Linked DNA regions of Homo sapiens: regions 1 and 3 are each linked to region 2. Evidence: fine-mapped expression QTL. A gene starts in region 2. Each other region holds a variant in brackets. All regions are shown on one strand. Distances are between the middles of the regions. Region 1 overlaps SLC6A13 (solute carrier family 6 member 13). Region 2 holds the start of CCDC77 (coiled-coil domain containing 77). Region 3 overlaps KDM5A (lysine demethylase 5A).

Region 1 (8,186 bases), 160 kb after region 2:
TTTTTTTTTGAGACAGAGTCTTGCTCTGTTGCCCAGGCTGGAGTGCAGTGGCGCGATCTCAGCTCATTGCAAGCTCCGCCTCCCGGGTTCACGCAATTCTCCTGCCTCAGCCTCGCGAGTAGCTGGGACTACAGGTGCCCACCACCATGCCCGGCTAATTTTTTGTATTTTTAGTAGAGACAGGGTTTCACCGTGTTGGCCAGGATGGTCTCGATCTCCTGACCTCGTGATCCACCCACCTTGGCCTCCCAGAATGCTCCCAAAATGCCTCCCAAAAAGAAATGAGCCACTGCGCCAGGCCCTGTTTTTAGGTTTTTTTTTTTTTTTTTTTGGGGGGCTATTTTGGGTCCTTATCATTTCCAGATGAATTTTAGAAAGAATTTGTGAATTTCTACAAAAAAGTCTGTTGTGCTTTTGATTAGGATTGTATTAAATCTATAGATCAATTTGGAAAGAATTGACATTTTAATGATATTAAGTCTTCTGATCCTGAATATGGTATGACTCTCCATTTATTTAGCTCTTCATTAATTTCTCTCAGCAATGTTTTGTAGTTGTGAGTGTACATATATCTTTCACAACTTTTGTCAGATTTATTCCTAAGTATTTAATATTTTTGATGCTATTGTAAATGGTATTATTTCCTACATTTTAATTTATGGTTGTTTATTCCTAATACATACACAATTGATTTGTGTATGCCCATCCTGTATCCTGCAAACTTGCTAAACTCACTGATTGGTTCTAATAGGTTTTTTTTTGTGTGCATTCCAAAGGATTTTCATTGTAGAATATCATGTCTTCTGAGAATAAAGCAGTGTTATTTTTTCCTTTTAAATCGGAATAACCTTTAATTCCTTATCTTGCCTTATTGGCTAGATTCTATGGCTAGAATCCCCAGTACAGTATTGAATAGAAGTAGTAAGAATAGACACTTGTTTTATTCTCAATCTTAGCAGTCTTTTACAATTAAGTATGATGTTAGCTGTAGGGTTTTTTTGTAGATGCCCTCTATCAAGTTGAGGAAGTTCTCTTCTCCTCATCATTGCTGGGAGTTTTTATTAGGAATGACTGTTGGATTCAGTCAAATACTTTACTGTACCTATGAAATGATCATATAGTTTTTCTTTTGTAATTTGTTAACAGGATGAGTCACATTATTTATTTATCCATTTATTATAACAGCTGGAGACTACAACACTATGTTGATTTTTTAAAATGTTAAACCCACTTTGTATCTCTGGGATAAACATTACTATATAATATATTGTCCTATTAACATATTGTTAGATTTGATTTCCTAAAATCATTTAGAATTTTGGCATTTATGTTCATGAAATATGTTGATCTTTAACTTTCTTTTCTTATAATGTATTTGTCTGCTTTTATTATCAGGGTAATGCTCACTTTATAAAATTGGTTGGGTAAGCATTCCATCTTTTCAATTTTTTGGAAGAGTTTGTGTAGAATTGCTGTTATTTCTTCCTTAAATATTTGGAGGATTCACCACTGAAGTCATTTGAGCCTGGAAATTTTTGTGGGATGGGTTTAAACCAAAAATGAATTTTCCTTAATAGTTATAGGGCTATTCAGACTGTTTCTTTTTGAGTGGGCTTTGGTAGTTACGTTTTTTATTTTACCTAAATTGTTGCACTTACTGGCATAAAGTTCTTCATATCTTTTCTTATTATTGTTTTAATATCTATAGAATCTTTACTGAGGATACATCTCATTTGTCATGCTGATAATTTGTGTCTTCTAAAATTTTATCAATTTTATTATCTCAAAGAACCAGCTTTTGGTTCATGGATTTTCTCTGTTGCTTTCCTGTTTTCCATTTTATTGATTTCCACTCTGATTTTTATTTCCTTTGACTTACTTTGGCTTTCATTTGCTCTTATCCTTCTCATTTCTTTCTTTCTTTTTTTCTTAACTACACCCTCATTTCAGCAATAATTTCTGATTTCTTAAGGTGGAAGCCGAGGTAATTGATTTGAAACTTTTCTTCTTTTATCATTTAGTAAATCTCCTAGGTACTGCTTTAGCAGTATGCCACAAATTATGATACTGGGTTTCATTTCATTCCATTCAAGATACTTTCTAATTTCTCTTTTGATTACTTCAGTAGAGCCATAGGCTATTTAGAAATGTGTTACCTAATTTCCAAATAGGTGGCAATTTTCCAAATGTCTTTCTCTGATAGATTTCTAATTTAGTCAGAGAACCAATTTTGTATTACTTGGATGCTTTTAAACTTACTGAGATTTGATCTCTGGTCCAGGATATGGGCCCATCTTGGTGGAATATTCCATGTTCATTTGAAACTAATGCATATTCTGCTGTTGGACTGTTGGGTAGAATGTTCAATAAATGTCAACTAAGTTGAGCTGGTGGATATAATTTTCAAATCTGTTATATCCATACTGATTTTCTGTATACTTATTCTATAAATTATTGAGAGAGGGCTATTAACGTTTTTAACATTTATCAGGAATTAGTTTATATGTTTCTCTTTGTAGTTCTGTCAGTTTTTGCTTCGTGCATTTTGAAGCTCTGTCATTAGGTGAATATGCACTTGAAATACTGATTGATTAATTGACCCTCTTGATTAATTGACCCTTTAATCATTATGAAATTACCTTCTTTACCCTTGGTAATATTCTTTGCTCTGAAGTTTACTTTGTGTGACATTAAGATAAACTTTACAGATTTATTTTGAGTAGTGTTAGCATGGTATATCTTTTTTTTTTTTTTTTTTTTTCCGAGACGGAGTCTTGCTGTCGCCTAGGCTGGAGTGCAGTGGTGCAACCTCGGCTCACTGCATGCTCCGCCCCCCGGGGTTCACTCCATTTCTCCTGCCTCAGCCTCCCAGCATGGTATATCTTTCTATCCTTTTACTTTTAACCTCTTCATGTCTTTTTTATTCAAAGTGCATTTTCTTAAGGCAGCATATAGTTGAGTCTTGTCAGGTTTTAAAAGCCAGTCTAACAATCTCTGCCTTTTATTTGGGACGTTTAGACCATTTGCATTTAATACGATTATCCATGTAATTAGGTTTAACTCTATCATCCTATTATTTGTTTTCTCTTTGTCCTATCAGTTATTTGTTTCCCCCTTCCCTCTCCTCCTGCTTTTTTTTTGGAATAATTGAATATTTTTTCTTATTCCATTGTTAGCTTTCTTCTTTTTGTTGGCTTATTAGCTGTAACTTTGTTGTGTTATTTTA[C/G]TGATTGTTTTAAACTTTGTAGTATACATCTTTAACTTATCACACTTTATCTTCAAGTGATAATGTACCACTTTATATATAAGAACCTTAAAATATTACAATTTCATTTCTTTCCTCCTAACCTTTGTGCTCTTCTTATACATTTTTATATGTTATAAAATCAATATTACATTGTTTTTATTTTTGTTTAACCAGTCAATTATCTTTTAAAAAATATTTGAATAATAAGAAAAACATTCTCTATGTTTATCTATGTAATTACTATTTCTAAAGCTTTTTATTACTTTGTATAGATTCATATTTCTATCTGGTGATATCATTTCATTCTCCCTGAAGGAGTTTCTTCCACATTTCTGGTAGTTCAGTTCTACTTGTGGTAGATCCTTTCAGGTTTTGCATGTCTTAAGAAACAGTTATTTCACTTTCCTTTTTGAACAGTATTATTGCTGGGTATAGAATTCCGGGTTGACAGCTTTCTCCCTCCTCCTTTATTGCTTCAGCAAATGTGCTTCCTTATCACTGTCTTCTCTTTTGCATTGTTTTAAATGAGAAATTTGATGTTATTCTTATCTTTGTCTGTACATATGTGTCGTTTTTCTCTGGTGACTTTTAAGGTTTTCTCTTAAAAGCTCCATATTCCGGTTTAAGTAATGTGATTATGATGCACCTTGGACTAGTTTTTTTTCATTTTTTTTTTAATCTTGGTGTTTGTTGAACTTTTTGGATCTATAGGTTTATAGTTTTCATAAAATTTGTAAAATTTTCAGCTATTATTTCTGTAAGCTTTTTCTCACCCTTTTCTTTCTTTCACAGACTCCCATTACATTAGGCTTTTTGAAGCTGTCTCACCACTTAGGCATACCTGTTCTTTTTAAAAAATTTCTTTTTTCTTTTCTTTCTTTCTTTTCTTTCTTTCTTTTTTTTTTTTTTTGAGATGGAGTCTCACTCTGTCACCCAGGCTGGAGTGCAGTGGTATGATCTCAGCTCACTGCAACCTCCACCTCCCAGGTTCAAGTGATTCTCCTGCCTCAGCCTCCCAAGTAGCTGGAATTACAGGCATGCACCACCACACCCAGCTAATTTTTGTACTTTTAGTAGAGACAGGGTTTCACCATGTTGGCTGGGCTGGTCTTGAACTCCTGACCTCAGGTGATCCACCTGCCTCGGCTTCCCAAAATGCGGGGATTACAGGCATGAACTACCATGCCCAGCAAAAATGTTCTTTTTTCTCTCTGTGTTTTATTTTAGATAGTTTCTATTATGGTTCAAGGTCACTGATCTTTTCTTCTGCTCTGCCTACTAACATTAATCCCATCCAATGTATTTCTTTAAATCTCACACACTGTAGTGTTCATGTTCAGAAGTTTTATTTGGGTCTTTTTCAATATCTTTTATATCCCTAACTTTTGGAACACTTGCAATACAGTTATAATAACTTTTAAATATTCTCATCTGCTAATTCTAACATCTTTGTAAATTATGGGTCAGGTTCAATCTCCTTGCTATGAGTAACATTTTCCTGATTCTTTGCTTTCCTGGTAATTTTCGATTGAATACCAGACCTGGTAATATTTTTGCTTTATGGGTTGCTGGATAATTTATTTATTTATTTATTTATTTTTGAGACAGAGTCTCACTCTGTTGCCAGGCTGGAGTGCAGTGGAGCGATCTCGGTTCACTGCAACCTCCATCTCCCGGGTTCAAGCAATTCTCCTGGTTCAGCCTCCCAAGTAGCTGGGACCACAGGCACATGCCACCATGCCCAGCTAATTTTTGTATTTTATTTATTTATTTATTTATTTATTTTTACTTTTATTTTTTGAGATGGAGTCTTGCTCTGTCACCCAGGCTGGATTGCAGTGGCACAATCTCGGCTCACTGCAACCTCCGCCTCCTGGGTTCACGCCATTCTCCTTCCTCAGCCTCCCAAGTAGCTGGGACTATAGGCACCCACCACCACACCCGGCTAATTTTTTTGTATTTTTAGTAGAGATGGGGTTTCACTGTGTTAGCCAGGATGGTCTCGATCTCCTGACCTCATGATCCACCTGCCTCAGCCTCCCAAAGTGCTGGGATTACAGGCTTGAGCCACCGCGCCCAGCTAATTTTTGTATTTTTACTAGAGATGGGGTTTCACCATGTTGGCCAGGATGGTCTCGATCTCTTGACCTCGTGATCTGCCTGCCTTGGCCTCCCAGAGTGCTGGGATTACAGGCGTAATCCACCACACCCTGCCTTTTCTTTCTTTCTTTTTTTTTTGCGACAGAGTCCCACTCTGTTGCCCAGGCTGGAGTGCAGTGGCACGATCTCGGCTCACTGCAACCTCTGCCTCCCAGGTTCAAGCAATTCTCCTGCCTCAGCCTCCCAAGTAGCTGGAGCTACAGGTGCGTGCCACCATGCCAGGCTAATTTTTGTATTTTTAGTAGAGACAGGATTTCACTATATTGGCCAGGCTGGTCTTGAACTCCTGACTTGGTGATCTGTCCACCTCAGCCTCCCGAAGTGCTGGGATTACAGACGTGAGCCACTGCACCCGGCCAATTTCGTATTTCTGTAAATATTCTTTAGCTCTGTTCTGGGATCAGTGAAGTTACTTGCTCTTTTTATATCTTGCTTTTAAGATTGGTTAGGTAGCAATAGAAGTGTGCTCGGTCTAGGGATAATTATTCCCCGTTACTGAGGAAATGCCCTTCTGCGTACTCTGCCTAATGCCTGGTGAATCTTGAGATTATTTACTCTGGCAGTGTGTGAGCACCATTACTTTTAATCATTTTGAATGGTTCTTTCCCTCACCTCAGTTTTCTCACACATATGCACTGACTAGTACTCAGTTGGAAGCTTGAGGGGGACCCTCTGCAGATTCTCCTGTCTGTGCAGTTCTGTCTTCTCTGGTACTCTGTGTCCTATGAACTGTGCTGTCCACTTTGCCAGCAGATGACAGGTCCATGGTAGGGAAAATACCAGTATATCTGGCATCAGTAGTCTTGTCTCCGCCAATGCTTATAAAAACAGAAGGAGACAGATTACTAGCTTAGTTCATTTTGTGTTGCTACAACAGAACACCTGAGATGGGTAATTTATAAGGAACAGATATTTATTTATTATAGTTTTGGAGGTTGGGAAGTCCAGGGCAAGCAGTCCACCTCTGGTGAGGGCCTTCTTCTTTGTGTCAGCCCATGGCAGAAGGCAGAAAGGCAAGAGAATATTCATATAAAAGACAGAGAGCCAAATACACTTTTTTTTTTTGGACAGGGTCTTGCTCTGTCACCCAGGTTGGAGGGAGGGCAGTGGCACAATCACAGCTCACTGCAGCCTCGAACTCCCAGGTTTAATCAATCCTCCCACCTCAGCCTCCCGAGTAGCTAGGATTACAGGCACACACAGCCATGCCCAGATAATTTTTTGTATTTCTTTTAGAGACAGAGTTTTCCCATGTTGCCCAGGCTGGTCTTGAAGTCCTGGGCTCAAGCGATCCTCCCACCTCAGCCTCCCAAAGTGCTGGGATTACAGGCGTGAGCCACTGTGCCTGGCCCAAACTCACTTTTATAACAAACACAGTCTCACAGTAATAACATTAATCCATTCATGAGGGCAGAGCCCTCATGACTTACATCTTATTAGGCTCCACGTCCCAACACTGTTGCATAGGGAATTAAGTTTCCAACCACGAACTTTAGGGGATACATTCAAACCATAACAATGACTGAAAGGGCATCTGATTTCAGCTTACTAAAAGACTACCTGACGTTAAGAGCAATGCTTTCTTTGAAAAGAATTATAGACTGTGGGCTGTGCCAATGCTCCTAGACATCCATTATTTAATAAGCTCCTTGTTATTGCCACAAGTTATGTGTTAAGCAGTAATTGTTCAGTGGGGAACAAACTTTAATAGGTATAGACTGAAACTGCAGTGAAAAAAGGCAAGAGGCTGTGTAGATCTTAGATAATGGGGTGACTCTTGATCTCTGCTATGTTCCAAACATCTAGACAGCTGTCTCCTGCAGTTTTGCATGTTCTCTGCCTCCGAGATTCTGACTGGCAGTATGGGTTGGTAATGGGAGGAGGTGAATGCAGACCATGAGGAGAATAGTCCCAGGAAATGAACAGCCTGTTTTCTAACCACAGGTGCCTTCTTCATCCCCTACCTCGTCTTCCTCTTTACCTGTGGCATTCCTGTCTTCCTTCTGGAGACAGCACTAGGCCAGTACACTAGCCAGGGAGGCGTCACAGCCTGGAGGAAGATCTGCCCCATCTTTGAGGGTGAGTAGCTCTGTACCTGACTCCAAAGCGTCTTCATTCGTGGTTATAAACCTTGTTTGGAATGACTTGAGTGATTAGTAGCAGTTCTGAGGTTAAGATAAGATCCCGAGTCTCTATGCTAAACCCTTGGTTTGTGGGCTGCATACTGAGCTAGTCAGCTGATCTATCAGAGAATGGGCAAGAAACAGCAGTGAGGATGGGGCAGAGGCTTTAGGTTAGGTAAGTAGAGTGCAAAGCCACTTTAGCCATATGTTTTAAACACATAACAATGTTGTTGTATTTTAAGACATATTTAAATCAATTATAAACATTTTAAAAGAGAACTTTAAATGAGAAAAAATTATTTCATTCATAGTTCTATCTTGGCCGGGCGTGGTGGCCCATGCCTGTAATCCCAGCACTTTGGGAGGCCGAGGCAGGTGGATCACCTGAGGTCAGGAGTTCGAGACCAGCCTGGCCAACATGGTGAAACTAAAATACAAAATACAAAAAATACAAAAAATTAGCCAGGCATGGTGGTGGGCACCGGTAATCCTAGCTACTCAGGAGGCTGAGGCAGGAGAATCTCTTGAACCTGGGAGGCAGAGGTTGCAGCGAGCCGAGATTGCACCACTGCACTCCAGCCTGGGTGACAAGAGCAAAACTCCATCTCAAAAAAAAAAAAAAGTTCTATCTTGACACAAGTATTTAAAATTTACAG
Region 2 (8,186 bases):
TTCTACTTCAGAGTCCCCGTACCTACAGTTCTCTTTGCTATGATGTTCTTTCCCCATTTATCTATGTGGCTTACTCCCTCTCCTCCTTCAGGGCTAAAATGTCACTTTCTTGATGAAGTCTTCCCTGACCACTCTACCAACCTCATCCCTCTTCTCTGTTTTACTTTTCTCCATTAACACTTACAACCTTGGCTAGTTGAAGTGGCTCACGCCTGTAATCTCAGCACTTTGGGAGGCCAAGGCGGATAGACTGCTTGAGTCCAGGAGTTTGAGACCAGCCTGGGCAACATGGCAAAACCCTGTCTCTACAAAAAATTAGCCAGATGTGGTGGCACATGTCTGTAGTCCTAGTTAAACAGGAGGCCGAGGTAGGAGGATCGCCTGCACCGGGGGATCAAGGCTGCAGTGAGCCATGATCACGCCATTGCAGTCCAGCTGGGGTGACAGAGTGAGACCCTCTCTTAAAAAAAAAAAAAAAAAAAAGTTGAACACTTATAACCATCTAATATTTAATGTCTGTCTCTCCACACTGGAATATGCAAACTCACTAAAGGCAGCGGGTTTTTATCTATTATGTTCACTGCTGTATCCCTAGTAACATAAACAGTGCCTGGCTCATACTAAGTGTATATGTATATATATACAACTCTCAATATGAATTTGAAAGACTGTTAAACATCCTTTTCTTCTGCTGGCCAGTCTATTCAATCTAGATTTAAAAATCTGTTTCTGCTTCTCTCATCCCATTTGTTTTCTTCTACAGCCAACCCTTCAAATACGCCATCTTTCTTCTAATTCTCTCCTTTAAAAGACTACTCTCCTCCTCCAAACTCACCTCCTTCCAAAATACGTCTCCAAATTGGGTCAATGTGCCTCTTGTCCAAATAACCTAGAAAATAAAGTTATTGGATTGGCATGGAAGGATTATGGGTAACATTTTTTTAAAAAAGCAGCTTTATGGAATGTAATTTGTGTACACCATTAAACTCATTCAAAGTGTAAATTCAATGATTTTTAGTATATTCACAGATACGTGTACCTATCAGCACAGTCCATTCTAGAAGTTTCGTCACTTCAAGAAAAAAACCCTGTGTCCTTCAGCTATTATCCCTGTCTCCCAGTCCTAAGCAACCACTAACCTACTGTCTCTACAGATTTCCCTATTCTGGACTTTCCTATAAATGGAATCACATAGTATATGGTCTTTTGTGACTGTCTTGTTTCACTTAGCATAATGTTTTCAAGGTTCACCTATGTGGTACCATGTATCAGTACTTCATTCCTTTTTGTGGCTGAATAAAATTCCATTGTACGGATATGGGTGACAACTTAAAGTTAAATTTCACTGTTTCAAAGCCATTTAAGAGTAATTTGAAGCGGCTGGGCACAGTGGCTCCTGCCTGTAATCCCAGCACTTTGGGAGGCCGAGGAAGGCGGATCACCTGAGGTCAGGAATTCAAGACCAGCCTGACCAACCTGGAGAAACCCCATCTCTACTAAAAATACAAAGTTAGCTGGGCATGGTGGTGCATCCCTATAATCCCACCTACTCAGGAGACTGAGGCAGGAGAATTGCTTGAACCTGGGAGGCGGAGGTTGTGGTGAGCCAAGATCGCGCCATTACACTCCAGCCTGGGCAACAAGAGCGAAACTCCGTCTCAAAAAAAAAAAAAAAAAAGTAATTTGAAGCTTTGAAAGACCCTTCTAACAACCTGCAATCCCTCTTCTCCTTCATAGTGACTGTCCTCACTGTTGCACATGTCTACGAAAAGTTGTCTACACTCACCTCTCTGGCTGCAAGACGGGGCCTTGCTATGTTGCCCAGGCTGGCCTTGAACTCCCGGACTCAAACAATCCTCCTCCCTTGGCCTTCCAAAGTGCTGAGATTACAGGCATGAGCCACTGAGCCAGGCCTCGGGCTTCTACTATGACATCTAACCAAGCTCTTATTGGTCAGCAGACATCCAAATTAATAAATTCAATTGCTCTTTTCTGTTTCTATCCTCCTCCATCCAATAGTTACTCCTTCACTTGTATTCTTAATTAGATAGTGCCAACTACCTATTTATTTATTTATTTTTTGAGACAGAGTCTCACTCTGTTCAGCCCAGGCTGGAGTGCAGTGGCACGATCTTGGCTCACTGCAACCTCCACCTCCTGGGTTCAAGTGATTCTCCTGCCTCAGCCTCCCCAGTGGCTGGGATTACAGGCACCTGCCACTGTGGCTAATTTTTTTTGTATTTTTAGTAAAGACAGGGTTTCGCCATGTTGGCCAGGCTGGTCTCGAACTCCTGACCTCAGATGATCCACCCACCTCTGCCTGCCAGTGTTGGGATTACAGGCGTGAGCCACTGTGCCTGGTAGTGCCAACTACCCTTTAAAAATATATCACTTTGGGACCGGACCTTGGCATGGCCAGGCCATGGCAAGACCCTGTCTTTACCAAAATTTTAAAAATTAGCTGGGCACAGTGGCAATGTAGTCCCACCTGCTTGGTGCGAGGATCACTTCAGCCTGAGGGTTCAAGGCTGCAGCGAGCAGTGATCGTGCCACTGCACTCTAGCCTGGACAACAGCGCAAGACCCTGTCTCAAAAAACAATTAAAATAGGCTGGGCACAGTGGCTCATGCCTGTAATGCCAGCACTTTGGGAGGCCAAGGTGAATGGACTGCTGGAGGTCAGGAGTTTGAGACCAGCCTGGGCAACATGGTGAAACCCTGTCTCTACAAAAATTACAGAATTAGCTGGGAGTGGTGGCACGTGCCTGTAGTCCCAGCTATTCAGGAGGCTGAGGCAGAGGATTGCTTGAGCTTGGGAGGCAGAGGCTGCACTGAGCTGAGATTGCCCCACTGCTCTCCAGCCTAGGTGACAGAGTGAGACCTTACCTGGAAAAAATAATAATAAAAATAAATATTGCTTTGTAGTTGAGAATGTGGGCTCTGATATCAGACTTGGGTTTGAGTCAAAGCCCTGCCTCTTATTAGCTGTGTACCTCAGGCAAGTTATCCTCTCTAAATTTCAGTTACTTCTATGTCATAGGTTGGTGTACGGATATAAGGCCGAGGGACAGTGTTTGACACATATATAAGCACTCAGTAAATGTGGACTATTATTATTATTGACAATTTTACTCCCTTGGCTCAGAGGTTCTGTCTTCAAGTTTCTTTATCATTTCCTCTAACCATTTCTTTGGGAACATCATTATTCCTCCTGTTTTTATTATTAACTCTGTCATCTAAAACACTACATGGCATACAGTAAGTAACAATTACATGTTGAATAAATAAACGACATCTCTTTCAACCTCTTGATTTGAATTAACAAAAATGTAGTGGACATTTTCACCCATAGTCCCACTGGCACTTGAAACGTTTAACTTAAAAAAGAAATCACTCAAGTTAGGTATTTTTTTAGCATCTCAAAGCTAACATTTCCTAAACCTAACACATCATCTTTTTATCCAAACATGCCCCTTCTGACTTTCCTATTTTAGTTACTAATTCAGCGTTTCCAAGCAACCGGGAGTTGGCAACTTAAATTCATCATTTGATCACTCATTCTTCTGAACCTCCTGTCTAACCATATGAATATCTTGTATATTTTATCTCCACAATGACCATGTTAATTCAGAGTCTCAATACTTCTTACCCACACCATTACAACACCTTAACGGTTCTACCTACTCCTTGCGTCTCCTGGACCATTTTCTTTAATAAAATACATCAGTAGCACCTCATAGCCTAAAGCATTAAATCCAATTTGTTAGCCTAGAATTCATGGCTTTCTACATAAGGGCCAAACCTAACTTTCCTGCCTTATTTCTCTCTACTCTCCTAAATGTACCGTTTCCAGATAACTTTCCTGCCTCCATACCTTTGTTCATGAGCTTCCCTCTAGCTGGAACACAACTCCCTCCACAACCCTCATAATTTCACTTAACAAAATCTAGTCTGTACATGAAAACTCATCTTAAATACCACCTCCTTTTTCTCTTTCCTGAGTCTCCCCATCCAAAATGATTTAGCAAAAATGATCTAAGTGCAAAAGAACTGCCTTTGAAATTATCTACAAGTCAACATATTAGAGTGCTTTATTGCTATCGTTTCTCCCATGCTAGCGTGCGCTCCCTACAGACAGAAATCGCGTCTTACTCTTCATTGCCTCTTCCAAAGGAACAATGCCTTTGTTTATAGGTAAATTAACGGGTTTCAGCTAGGGTCTCTGCACCTATCTCCAATACCCTTGCTTAGATATATTCTTATAGCTTGTCTACTAACAATTAACATTTGTGTAGCACTTTGAATTTTTTTCTTTTAGCCACGTGACAAATCTGTACAATTTATTATCCCAACAACCGTTCAGTATTTTCACTATCCCTTATTTCACAAATGAGGAAACTGAGAGCTAGACCAGCGTGGGGTTAGAGTACACCGGAACGCATCTCCAGGGCGCCCGAATCCCGTACTCCTTTTCCCACTTCATCCCATTCTCGACCGCCTCACTGCTCCAGGTCCCAACGCTCCAGCACTCCTGAGGTCTCTCCCTTTGCACATTGGAGCTTTCCTCCTCCGGTCCCCAGCCCCTCCACGGACACCACATTCAGGCTCACGTCCTCTCCTCCGCACTGCTTCCGCAGTTACTTCTCCCTAACCAGATTTTCTTCCCAAGGCTTCTTACCTAACCCCTTCACCCCAAACCCGAAACTCTATACTCACGACACACTAAGACTCCGAGTCAGGGAACGCAACTGAAAAACAAAAGTCAAACCAAGGAGCGGCGCGGCGCCACTGAGCGTCCCTGAATCCGTGCAATCGCGAAGAAGTTTACATGGCCCTTTGGAATGCGCACCAATGGGAAGGGCCTTCACACAGAGGCCCGCCCCCATCTCGCCCCTCCTCGCGGTGCTCCCGACCGCGCAGAGGTCTCTGGGAAATGTAGTTTTCTTCTGCCTGGAGCTCTGCGCGGGGCGACGCAGCTGGGCTGCAACCCGCTCCTCCAGGGACGGGTAGTGTGACGTTTGGGGTCAGAACGCACCACTTTCGGGCACCCCCACTTAAGATTGCTCAACTGCTTTGAGCTCAGGTACTTCGCGTTCATGGTACATATATGTTGTAATTTCCAAGCTTGTCTCAAGAGATAAAGATTCTAAGAAAAGTTTCTTCTTCCATGACCGGGTGGCCTAGAGCCAGGATAGGACCTGAGGTTCAGTTTCTACGGTCAGGGGACTATGTATTAAAATTCTACTATTTGTTCCATAGCAAACACTGCTTCCTTTTCCGGAGAAATGTAAGACACTGGGCTTTAATGATAAAAGCAAGTTCAAAATCCATTATGGTCTTATCTTTCCAGAAAGCAAGGTGTAAAGGTGGGGGAAAAGCACTTTCGTCTCAGAATTACAGCTACTGGTATGGAAAAGCTGGGGCCCTTCGCTGGTGTGAGTCCTAAGGATGTCTAAATGGAACGTGCATCTGCTACAGGCTCGCACTTTCCTTTATTGCGCTTCCCAGGTAACTGTTTTTACAAATGTAAGGTTTGTGGCAACTCTGCATGGAACCAAATCTATCTGCGCCATTTTTCCTACAGCACAGGCTTACTATGTGTCTCTGCACCACATTTGGTAATTTTCACAATATTTCAAACTTTTTCATAATTATTGTATATGTTATGCTGATCTGTTATCCTTTATATTACTATTATAATTGTTTAGGGGCACCATGAACCATGCCCATATAAGATGGCAAACTTAATTCATAAATGTTGTGGATGTTTTAACTGCTCCACAGACCAGCAGTCTCCCTGCCTTTCTCCCTCTCTTCTTGCCTCCTTATTCCTGTGATACAACAATATTGAAATTAGACCAATTAACAATCCTACAGTGGGGGTTCAAGTGAAAGGAAGAGTCACACATCTCTTACTTTAAATAAAAAGCTGAAAATGATTAAGCTCAGTGAAAAAGGCATGTTGAAAGCCAAGACAGGATGAAAGCCAGTCTTCTTGCACCAAAGTTAGCCAAGTTGTGCATGCAAAGGAAAAGTTTTTGAAGGAAATTAAAAGTGCTACTCCAGTAAACACAAAAATGATAAGAAAGTGAAACAGACATTGCTGATATAGAGAAAGTTTGAGTGGTCTGGATAGAAGATCAAACCAGCCACAGCATTCCCTGAAGCCAAAGCCTAATCTGGAGCAAAGTCCTAACTCTTCAATAAAATGAAGGCTGAGACAGGTGAGGAAGCTGCAGAAGAAAAGGTGGAAGATAGCGGAGGCTGGTTCGTGAGGTTTAAGGAAAGGAGCTATTTCCGTTACTTAAAAGTGCAAGGTGGAAGCAGCAAGTGCTGATGTAGATGCCGCAGCAAGTTATTCAGAAGAGCTAACTAAGGTAATTGATTAAGGTGGCTAAACTAAACTACAGACTTTTGATATATATGAACCAGCCTTTTATTGGAAGGAGATGCCAAGTAGTACTTTTGTAGCTAGAGAGAAGTCAATACCTGGCTTCACAGCTTCTAAGAACAGACTGACTCTCATGTTAGGGGCTAATGCAACTGGTGACTTTAAGTTGAAGCCAGTGCCCATTTACATCCCTGAAATCCTAGAGCCCTTAAGAATTATGTTAGATATAGTCTGCCTGTGCTCTATAAATGGAACAACAAAACCTGGATGACAGCATATATGTTTATAGCATGGTTAACTGAGTATTTTAAGTTCACCGTTTTATGTATGTTTTATTTTAAGTCCTACTGCTCAGGAAAAAAAGGATTTCTTTCAAAATATTACTTCTCACTCACAATGCAACTGGTCACCCAAGAGCTCTGGTGGAGGTATGCAAACAGATGAATGTTGCTTTCATGCTTGCAAACACAACAGACATTCTGCAGCTCATGGATCAAGGAGTCATTTTGACTTTCAGGTCTTATTAAGAAATATATTTCAGGCCGGGCACGGTGGCTCACATCTGTAATCCCAGCACTTTGGGAGGCTGAGGTGGGCGGATCACCAGGTCAGGAGATCGAGACCAGCCTGGCCAACATGGAGAAACCCCCGTTTCTACTAGAAATACAAAATTAGCTGGCCATGATGGCGCATGCCTGTAATCCCAGCTACTCAGGAGGCTGAGGCAGGAGAATCACTTGAACCTGGGAGGCGGAGGTTTCAGTGAACTGAGATCGTGCCATTGCACTCCAGCTTGGGCAACAAGAGTGAAACTCCGCCTCAAAAAAAAAAAAATATTTCATAAGGCTATAGCTGCCAGACATAGTGATTTCTCTGGTGGATCTGGGCAAAGTAAATCGAAAACCTTCTGGAAAGGACTCACCACCATTCTAGATGTCCTTAAGATCATTTGTGACTTGGCTTGGTGAGATGTCTCACACCTGTAAACCCAGCACTTTGGAAGGCCAACGTGGGTGGATCACTTAAGCTCAGGAGTGCATGACAAGCCTGGGCAACATAGAAAACCTTGTCTCTATAAAAAAATACAAAAACTAGCCAGGAGTGGTGGCATGCACCTGGCTACTTGGGAGGCTGAGGTGGGAGGATTGCTTGAGCCTGGGAGACCAAGGTTGCAGTGAGCCGAGATTGTGCCACTGCAGTCCAGCCTGAGTGACAGAGCAAGACTGTGTCTCAAAAAAAAAAAAGTAAAAATATATTTAATAAAAAAATTTTAAAAAGAACATTTGTGACTTATGGGAGGAGGTCAATATCAATAATAACAGGAGTTTGGAAGAAGTTAATTCCAATCCTCTTGGATGTCTTTGAGGGGGTTCAAGACTTCATGGACGAAATAACTGCAGATGCTGTGGAAGTAGCAAGAGAACTAGAATTAGAAGTGGAGCCTTGGGAGGCTGAGGCAGGAGAATCGCTTGAACCCGGGAGGCAGAGGTTGCAGTGAGCCCAGATCGCGCCACTGCAGTCCAGCCTGGGCAACAGAGCAAGATTCTGTCTCAAAAAAAAAAAAAAGTGGAACCTGAAGATGTGACTGAATTGCTGCAATCTCATGATGAAACTATGGATGAAGAGTTGCTTCTTATGAATAAGTAAAGAAAGTGGTTTCTTTAGCTGGAATCTACTCCTGGTGAAGATGCTGTGAACATTGCCAAAATGACAACAAAGGGTTTAGAATATTCCATAAACTTAGTCGATAAAGCAGTTGCAGGGTTTGAGGATTGACTTCAACTTTGAAAGAAGTT
Region 3 (8,186 bases), 110 kb after region 2:
GGCCAGTATTGTAAGAGCTGTGGCAAATTGCATTAAGATGGTATTCCAAAGACTTGAAACTTTTAGTCCATATCTTACACTCAGAGCTGTGGGCACCCTCCTAAATGGAATATGATTTTCTTCAAATCTTTTGCAACAAATAATTCAAACCTATAAATGCATTATTTTAGGCCAGGCAAGGTGTGGCTCACGCCTGTAATCCCAGCACTTTGGGAGGCCGAGGTGGGCGGATCACCTGAGGTGAGGAGTTCGAGACCAGCCTAGCCAACATGGTAAAACCCCATCTCTACTAAAAATACAAAAAATGAGCAGGGTGTGGTGGCGGACACCTGTAATCTCAGCTACTTGGGAGGTTGTGGCAGGGGAATCGCTTGAACCCAGGAGGCAGAGGTTGGAGTAAGCCAGGATGGCTCCATTGTGCTCCAGCCTGGGCCACAAGAGCAAAACTCTGTCTCAAAAAAAAAAAAAAAAAAGCATTGTTTTAAAATTTCCAACCCTAAATTTTAAGTATAGTAATTCTCTTATGGCCGTTCTTTAAATATAATGTTGACAGTATGAACTTCTGAGAGTAATAGTCAGACTTTATGAAAAATTCCAGTTGTTTAAATGATTGGAGGCACCTGTTACGGCTCTTATCAAGAATATTGATAAATCTGTAGTTTTAATTTTATTATGCTCATTATACTATTTGATATTTAGAATTCTAATAGTGCCTCAGTTTGAAAATATAAACAGTAAATAAAACTGCATCACTGTTCCCTATAGGTTATGCCCTCACTTTTTCAATGAAATACTTAAACCTTTTTAGAGCTTGAAGGCACCAACAGGTTACTTTGTTCAGGCTGCTCATTTTACAGATGATGCAACCAGGACTCAGGGAAGGTAATTATGTGACCAAAGTTACAGAGCTAGTTAGTAGCAAAACCAAAAGTAGAACCCTAGATCTTGGCTGTCAGACCAGGTTCTCTCCACTAACACCTTACCCCATCAATAATTGAGATGTAAGTACAAAAACACATTCCAAAACTAAATGACACATATTTAAATGAGATGTATTAGGGGTATTCTATTCATTTTTTGGAATGTGCATAGTAAAATATATATCCTATAGTCTAATCTTCCAAGGCAGACAGCTATAAATATTTTAGTGTTTCCTTCCAATTTTTTTCTATGGCGTTTGTTTTATATCATTGTCAGACTGTTTACTGACTTGCATCTGTTCATTTTATAAGCATCTTCCTATATTATAAACATTTTAAAGCATTTTAATATATATGTGCATATTATTTTTATCTTTAATTTTGAATTTATTTCCATCTGAGTTTGTTTGTTAAAGAGGCTGATGAAGAGTTAACTTTCTCTTTGGGTATCAAAGTGTAGCAGTTCATTATTGGCAGAACCTTCTCCCTTTTCTTCCTTAATTTTATGGTAGTTTAAAGACTAGCAGCAAGGTAGGATGTTTCCTTTTTAAACTTTCCTGACATTCTTTCTATAATGTTTACATCTATCATGAGCCTTTCGTCTTATTTTTATACTCTTTCTCCTTATCACTTAATCTTTCCCCTCCCTTCTGCTCAGCATTTAAATAGGATTCAGTTCATCCATTATTCCTGTTGTCTTCTTATAGCAATATAAACACTTAGGCCGTTTTTTTTTTCATTTGCTATGAAATTGTCAAATTAACAGGTGCCCTGCCTATTCAAAGGGTTATGATGATAAGACAAAACAATCTCTATGAAAGCACTTGTTAACCAAAAAATGCAACGTAAGTGCTAAGATGTGATCATTATTTTTGAAGGAACTGTGAGATTTGCTCCTAATATTATAGGTATTTTTTAAACAAAATCTTTAAACAAAATCTAGAGTTATCATCTACATTTTGATGGAGCAAAAGGAGATTTGGCTGAGTGCTCAGAGAAAATGTCTATTTTGAACTGTTACGATACGTAAAGGTGAGCAACGTGTGCCCCACCCTATGTTGTTAGTTTATATAAAATAGTGTTTTATTTCTATAACGTGTTTCGTTTTAAGCAGAAGTTATTTCAGATTATAGATATTTTGCCTGTTACTGCTGTTTTGCAGTTTTTATGGTTCTACATGTTTGTTCCTGACATTGATTTTGCTAAATAAAAGTTACAGTTCTATAAAAATTTCTGTAAAGAATGTTAAAACTTTCTCAGTGTTTAGTGTTTCTCTGAGAAAACAATTAATATACAGCACACATCTTTAGAGCAAAATAAGAAAAGAATGCCTTTGCCAGCTGCAGTGGCCCATCCTGGTAGTCCCAGCTACTCAGAAGGTTGAGACAGGAGGATTGCCTGAGTCCAGGAGTTCAAGGCTATAGTTAATGTGCTATGATCGCACCTGTGAGTGCCCCACTGCACTTCAGTCTGGGCTACACAGGAGACCCTGTCTCAAAAAGAAAAAGATTGGCAAGATGATGTAAAAAAAAAAAAAAAAAAAAAAAGAAAGAAAGAAAAAATCATGCTTTTTAGCCCAGTTTGTTCTTTAAGATACCATGCAGCAAAAAATAACTTCCAGGGTTCACTTGTTTTTAGGTGAATTCTCTGACCAGTAATTACTATTATTTCTCTAACTAATAATTACTGGGACTTTTCCCCCAAAATATGCAGATTAAATTTTTTTTTTTTTTTTTTTTTGAGACAGGGTCCTACTCTGTTGCCCAGGCTGGAGTGCAGTGGTGTGGTCATAGCTCACTGCAGCCTTGATCTCCTGGGCTCCAGCAGTCCTCCTGCCACAGCTTCCTGAATAGCTGGGACTACAGGCACACACCACTATGCCCACCTCTTTTTTTGAGAAATGCTCTTTTAAAAATTAAAAGAAAGATTAAATGAGGCTAGTTAAATGTGCCTAGCCTCAGTTTCAAGATGTTTTAGAAAAAGGAAGACAATACCAGAATAATGTAAAAGATTTTGAAAAAATAATTTTTCCTTTGATTATTAAATTAATGTCAAGCTAAAATTAATATTAACAAAACTTTTTAAAAAATTAATTTTGAAGTTCAGAATCTTTTTGTCTCTGAACTCTTTATTCAGTCTTATTGGTACCAAAGATAAAACAAGTTAACTAGAAAAAATATCAAATTCTCTCAGGCTACTAATTTAAGTAGTATTTTTCTTCTGTATTAGAATAAATATTTAATAATTTTACTTATGAAAATAGTCTTTTTCTCTTCACTTTTTTTAACCCTCTTATTGTTGGCCTTTTCCTTTACCCATTCCTACTTCCATGAGAAGTTTTGTGTGGTAAATTAAGAGACTATGAACTCTCATTTTTACTATTTATTAGCCACTCTGATTTAAGATTTTCATGGGGGTGTTGCCTCAATCAAAGTATTTGCATTTCCAGCGGCTTTACTAGTTCATATCTCCTTTTAGCACAGATAAGCAAAGGTTAAGTTACCTAAATGTGTGTAATACACACACACACGCGTGCACGCGCATGATGTTGAGCTAGAGTGACTAACTGTCCCAGTTTCCCTGGGACTTTCCCAGTTTTGGCACTGAAATTCCCACATGCTGAGAAATCTGTCATTCCTTGGCAAATTGGGAGGATTGGTCACTGAATATTGAGAGCACCAAGAAAATATACACAAGGATTCTGAACATATGTTGTAGTTCACTTAGTGAATTGTTTTCCTTTTTCAAATCCAGCTTTTGCTAGGAAACTTGGGGTGCAAAAGATATTAAATGCCAAAATAACAAAAGCTCAGTTTAATTAGTAAGCTAAGAATATCACTAAATTACCAGATTTTCTTTTTTCCCAGTGCAGTACTATTCTCTAAGAAATGAACAAAATATACTATGCCAAATATTTTTTATTAAGTGTGAATATGAAACCATACAGCAAAACATGAATATTAAACTAATATTTCCTCTTTTTAATATATTTCTTTTTGAAACAGACATTTCCCCCAGATCTAAACATAGTAACCTATTTGTACTGTAATGTAAAATCTCCTATCATTTAATATTTGAACAGTTCATAGCTGTGAAGTTTAGTAATTATTTTTGTGATTCACTAAATACATCTCCTAGAAATAATGAAAGGGGGGGAAATGACAATTTATACAGTTATCCAAATTCTGTGTTCTTGAGTTTTCAGGATACTACATA[G/T]TCTGTTGCCCCTGTGTCAAAATCATCTGTGGATTCAGTTGACATCCCAAACTTTAGTTTGCTTTATGTTGCTGTGGGCCTTTCACACAAAAGTAGAACTCAGAGTTGATTGTTAGTAGATGAACATGATAAAAAAGATATTGGTAAAGAGAAGGACTATTTTTTGCTTGTTCTATTATCAGGCTAAATTGTTATATAACCTGTAGTCTAGGTTAGAATTTGTGTACCAGTATCTCAAGGAAGGTTATATACTCTTTTGAAATGGTAGAAGATCTGGGCTTAGGAAGGGACCTTTAGTCAAAATCACAAAAGGGAAAGTATTGTCTTATTTGTAAGAGAATTTTGGGAAATTGTAAGCCAGTGAGTATAGTGCAAACACTAGATTTAAAAAGACATGGGACACTTTTCTTTGTAGCAAATACTGATACATTAATAACATTCTTATCCAATGGATTAGCATGAATGGGGACTAGACTGGATTAAGAAAGAGGGTTGGAGGTGTAAGGGTGAAGGTAACTGTTGGTTCACAGGTACCATTATAAAAAGCATGGTATCTCAAACCTGGGCAGCACAGAGAACCACAGTTTATCTATCCAGTTCCCTTTACCAGTCCCAAACAGCCAAAACACTCACTCTGAGTGCACGTACTCTACAGCTAGCATTTTGTGTTTTTACTGCTTGCAGTACTTTAATTTTTACATTTTGCACAGATGCCATTATTTCCCCCTTTTTTTTTTTTTTGGTCTCTGATTAGTTTGCTACAATAGGAACATTTTGGTGAGTTTTTTTATTGCACAGACTTCAGAAGCTAAACAATCAATTACAGAACAAAAATCAGTTTAGGAAGGTATTGTTAAGTTGCTCTGAATTTACAGGAAGTGATATCACAGAGGGCCAGCAATGATCGGATTTAGAATATATGAGAATCACTTGGGAGCTGATTAAAAATGTAAGCTTCTGGCTTGTACTCCCCAGATATTCTGAGTTCATAGGGTGATGGGTCCCAGCTACATTTTAAACAAACACAATAGATGATTCTGATGCCAGTGGTCTACACACTTTGAAAAGCAGTGCTGCCGACAGTTGTATCAAGGTGCAGAACGTTTTGTGTAGTGTAGGGTAATGAGTAGAGCCATGAGACCATGACTGGAAAGTGCCTCCAGTATCCTGGGCAGTGAATTAGGTGTTTTGCCATACATTATTTCATTGGATCCTCTCGGTAATCTTGTAATTAATGTCATCTCCATTTTCAGATGAGGAAATTGAGTCACTCAGGTTAAATGACTTGCCTGAAATGATACACACTGGAACTCAGAGCTTCTGAGTTGAGTAATCTTGATGTTAACACAATATTGTCTCTTAAGATCTAGAACTTTAGCATAGGAACAAAACAAGTAGAATATCATTTTGACAAATTATTTTTCCCACCCCTTATTACAAGCCTAAAACTACTGACGTGACTACTGTGGTTTTGACAGTTTTTTATAGGACATGGAAACTAATTTTGAAAACTACTCAGTTGCTATGAATGAAACTCATTTACCTAGCCAAAACCTCCTTCATCTGTTCTTTCTCTTAAGTTGTATAGAGGTACTTCTTGGATCCCTTTCTATTCCTTACTTTGATATCTGGTAAAGCTCATGGTTTTAAGTGGCTTCTTAACGTTACCAATGAAATGACCAACCTTGGTATTGAGGTGAGGAAGAGTAGCTCTTTTCATCTTAAATGTTCTTGTCTGCCATGACATTAGCTGTAAAAACTACCACAATCAGCCTTCAAATATAAAAGCCAAAAGTCACTTTATTGTTAACTCTTAAGTCCAAGGCTTAAAGTCACCAAACTACAATCCCTTCCTAGCCTCCTGTAATCACAGTATTGTCAGAAGGGTCAAAGTTTGACACCTGCCACTGACCTATCAGTTTTTCAGATTTTAATTTTAAACCCCAGAGTGATCTATTGACCTGTGTCTTTGACTGTTATAATTGGTTAATTTGTAAGATTTGACATCTGATATTTGCTAACTTTTTATAGGGAGTTGTATTTGTAACGGAAGAAGAGAAGAATAAAAAATATTAGTTTTAAAAGTGGCCTATGTGACTGCTTTTCTAAAAAGGTATTTAATGCTCTTAGTACTTTGGCTTATCTCTTTGAAATAAAGCTAATACACAGGATTGCCTTCACATTGTTGTACTCTTCCTTTCTTGATTGATAATTGCATTGTCTTAGAGCCTAGAAATTGTTAATATTAGCTAAAACTACTTGGCTGCTCTATTAGAAGTTCCCTTTTTGTCAAATTTTTCTCAAACATGTTTCTGCCTCACAAGGAGCCCCAGGTATTCATGAGGTAATGGAGTACCTAAGAGGCCTAATTTTGTGGACACACTATGGTGAAATATAATTTTGGGGTATTAACTTCTCAGCTTCTTTCTTTAAAAAATAACCCCATAAGAAGTCATTGCCTATCTAGACATCCCAGTTGTTTGCTATTGTTTAAGCCAAGAAAGCTCTTTGGTTTGCTTTTATTCTAGGCTTAATGTTTATGTAACCTAAACATTCCCCAATCTTGTTTCCTACAGGTAGACTGGGTACAATGTGATGGTGGCTGTGATGAGTGGTTTCATCAAGTTTGTGTGGGTGTATCTCCAGAAATGGCTGAAAATGAAGATTACATCTGTATAAACTGTGCAAAGAAGCAGGGGCCAGTTAGCCCAGGTCCAGCACCACCTCCTTCCTTCATAATGAGCTACAAACTACCAATGGAGGATCTTAAAGAGACCAGTTAGCAGATGCTTGGTTAGTTTGGGACATGGGGGGACATGGACCACATTGAGACCTTAGTCATCAAGTAGAGTGGTTTATATCCACTTGGAATGTTGCTTCCAAAGATGAATGGCCTTCAGAGAAAGTCCCCTTAGTGCTGGCTTCCTCTTTGCATGGACTCTGTGGGTTACATTCTCTATCAACATATCTATGCAGAGGGTGTCTTCTTTGGTACAACAGCCAATATTTCATGTCTCCTTTGAGTGTGGTTTACTGCATTAAGGCCAGATGCTTAATTGAGCTCTAGGGTGGCTGGTTAGTATTAATACATTGGTGTGCTAACAGGGCATATAGGATGTGGCTTTTGTCCAGCTGATAGTAGTTAGAGGCTTACAACTTAGGAGCAGCACCAACTGAAGGTGCTAATTGCTTGGATCTCCTTCATTGGGATAGTTGGAGAGGGATTGGAGTACCACTTTCCTTCCACTGTTACCTGGTACTTAATGCCCTAAAGATACAACTAGGAGTAACAGGGCCAAAGTTATTTCTGTTAGACGTCAAGGAATGGTATCACAGTCTATTGACCTCAGCGATTTGTGCTTGTTTGTGCTAGAAGAACATCCCAAATAGGAGAACCTCTCACAAGCTGGGGCAGGTCACCTTATCTTTGTAAGATGAGGATATCATCTAGATCAGAAATCTGACTAGATTGGATTCTGAGGAGAAGAACCTACTACAAGGCAAGGAGCCGTTTTTTGGCTTTGAAAAGTCTTGCTGTCTTGGGTCTACATTTTAGGGAAGAGCAGGTACATGGATCCAGGCTTCTGCCAAAAAAAAAAAGAGAAGAAGATGACGATGATGACCAGTCGTACTATCTTACTGAGCCACAGTGATGCATGCTTTTCGGGGAAAACTTCATTCACAAGTATTCCAGACACCAGGCTTCAGGCATGGCCATGAGCAAGACCAGCAAATAACAGCTTTTTGCCTTGCAGCCCTGACCCCAATGTCTGCTGTTTCCAACACTGGTGATTTCTAACTACGGCCCACAGCAGATGCTGTTGAATAACACCATGGCTTCATCAGAGGATGTGGGGTTGTAGTACCTCTGGGTGATGAAGTTGTTTTAGTAAATCCATTTTTAAAAAAAAAAAAGGACTTGTTTTTACTTTTTTCTAAATGTCTCTGACTACTGACTGTTCTATACATAGATTATTTTTCCTTTTTTAATATACATATATGAATATATAAATATATATATTTACTGTTACCAGCAGCATATGACAGAGT

Evidence for each region. PIP is the estimated chance that this variant, and not a neighbour inherited with it, causes the effect.
Region 1: its variant is fine-mapped to the expression of CCDC77 in whole blood (TOPMed, PIP 0.97).
Region 3: its variant is fine-mapped to the expression of CCDC77 in whole blood (INTERVAL, PIP above 0.99).

The regions. Positions count from the first base shown.
Region 1 is chr12:242,979-251,164 of GRCh38, reverse strand. It overlaps SLC6A13 (solute carrier family 6 member 13), which reads left to right. Exons shown (of 15, transcript NM_016615.5): 3 at 7,352-7,486. Among named protein-coding and RNA genes, the nearest start is that of SLC6A13, 16 kb to the left of the region's middle. The variant C/G (reference allele first, on the strand shown) is at 3,227.
Region 2 is chr12:398,214-406,399 of GRCh38, reverse strand. It overlaps CCDC77 (coiled-coil domain containing 77), which reads right to left and starts at 4,756. Exons shown (of 13, transcript NM_032358.4): 1 at 4,716-4,756; 2 at 836-889. LOC105369594 (a long non-coding RNA gene) reads left to right here and starts at 4,990. Exons shown (of 4, transcript XR_007063149.1): 1 at 4,990-5,082; 2 at 5,350-5,507. RefSeq lists enhancers at 3,946-4,498, 4,913-5,232.
Region 3 is chr12:284,189-292,374 of GRCh38, reverse strand. KDM5A (lysine demethylase 5A) reads left to right here. Exons shown (of 28, transcript NM_001042603.3): 28 at 6,713-8,186. The coding sequence ends at 6,919. Among named protein-coding and RNA genes, the nearest start is that of SLC6A13, 25 kb to the right of the region's middle. The variant G/T (reference allele first, on the strand shown) is at 4,137.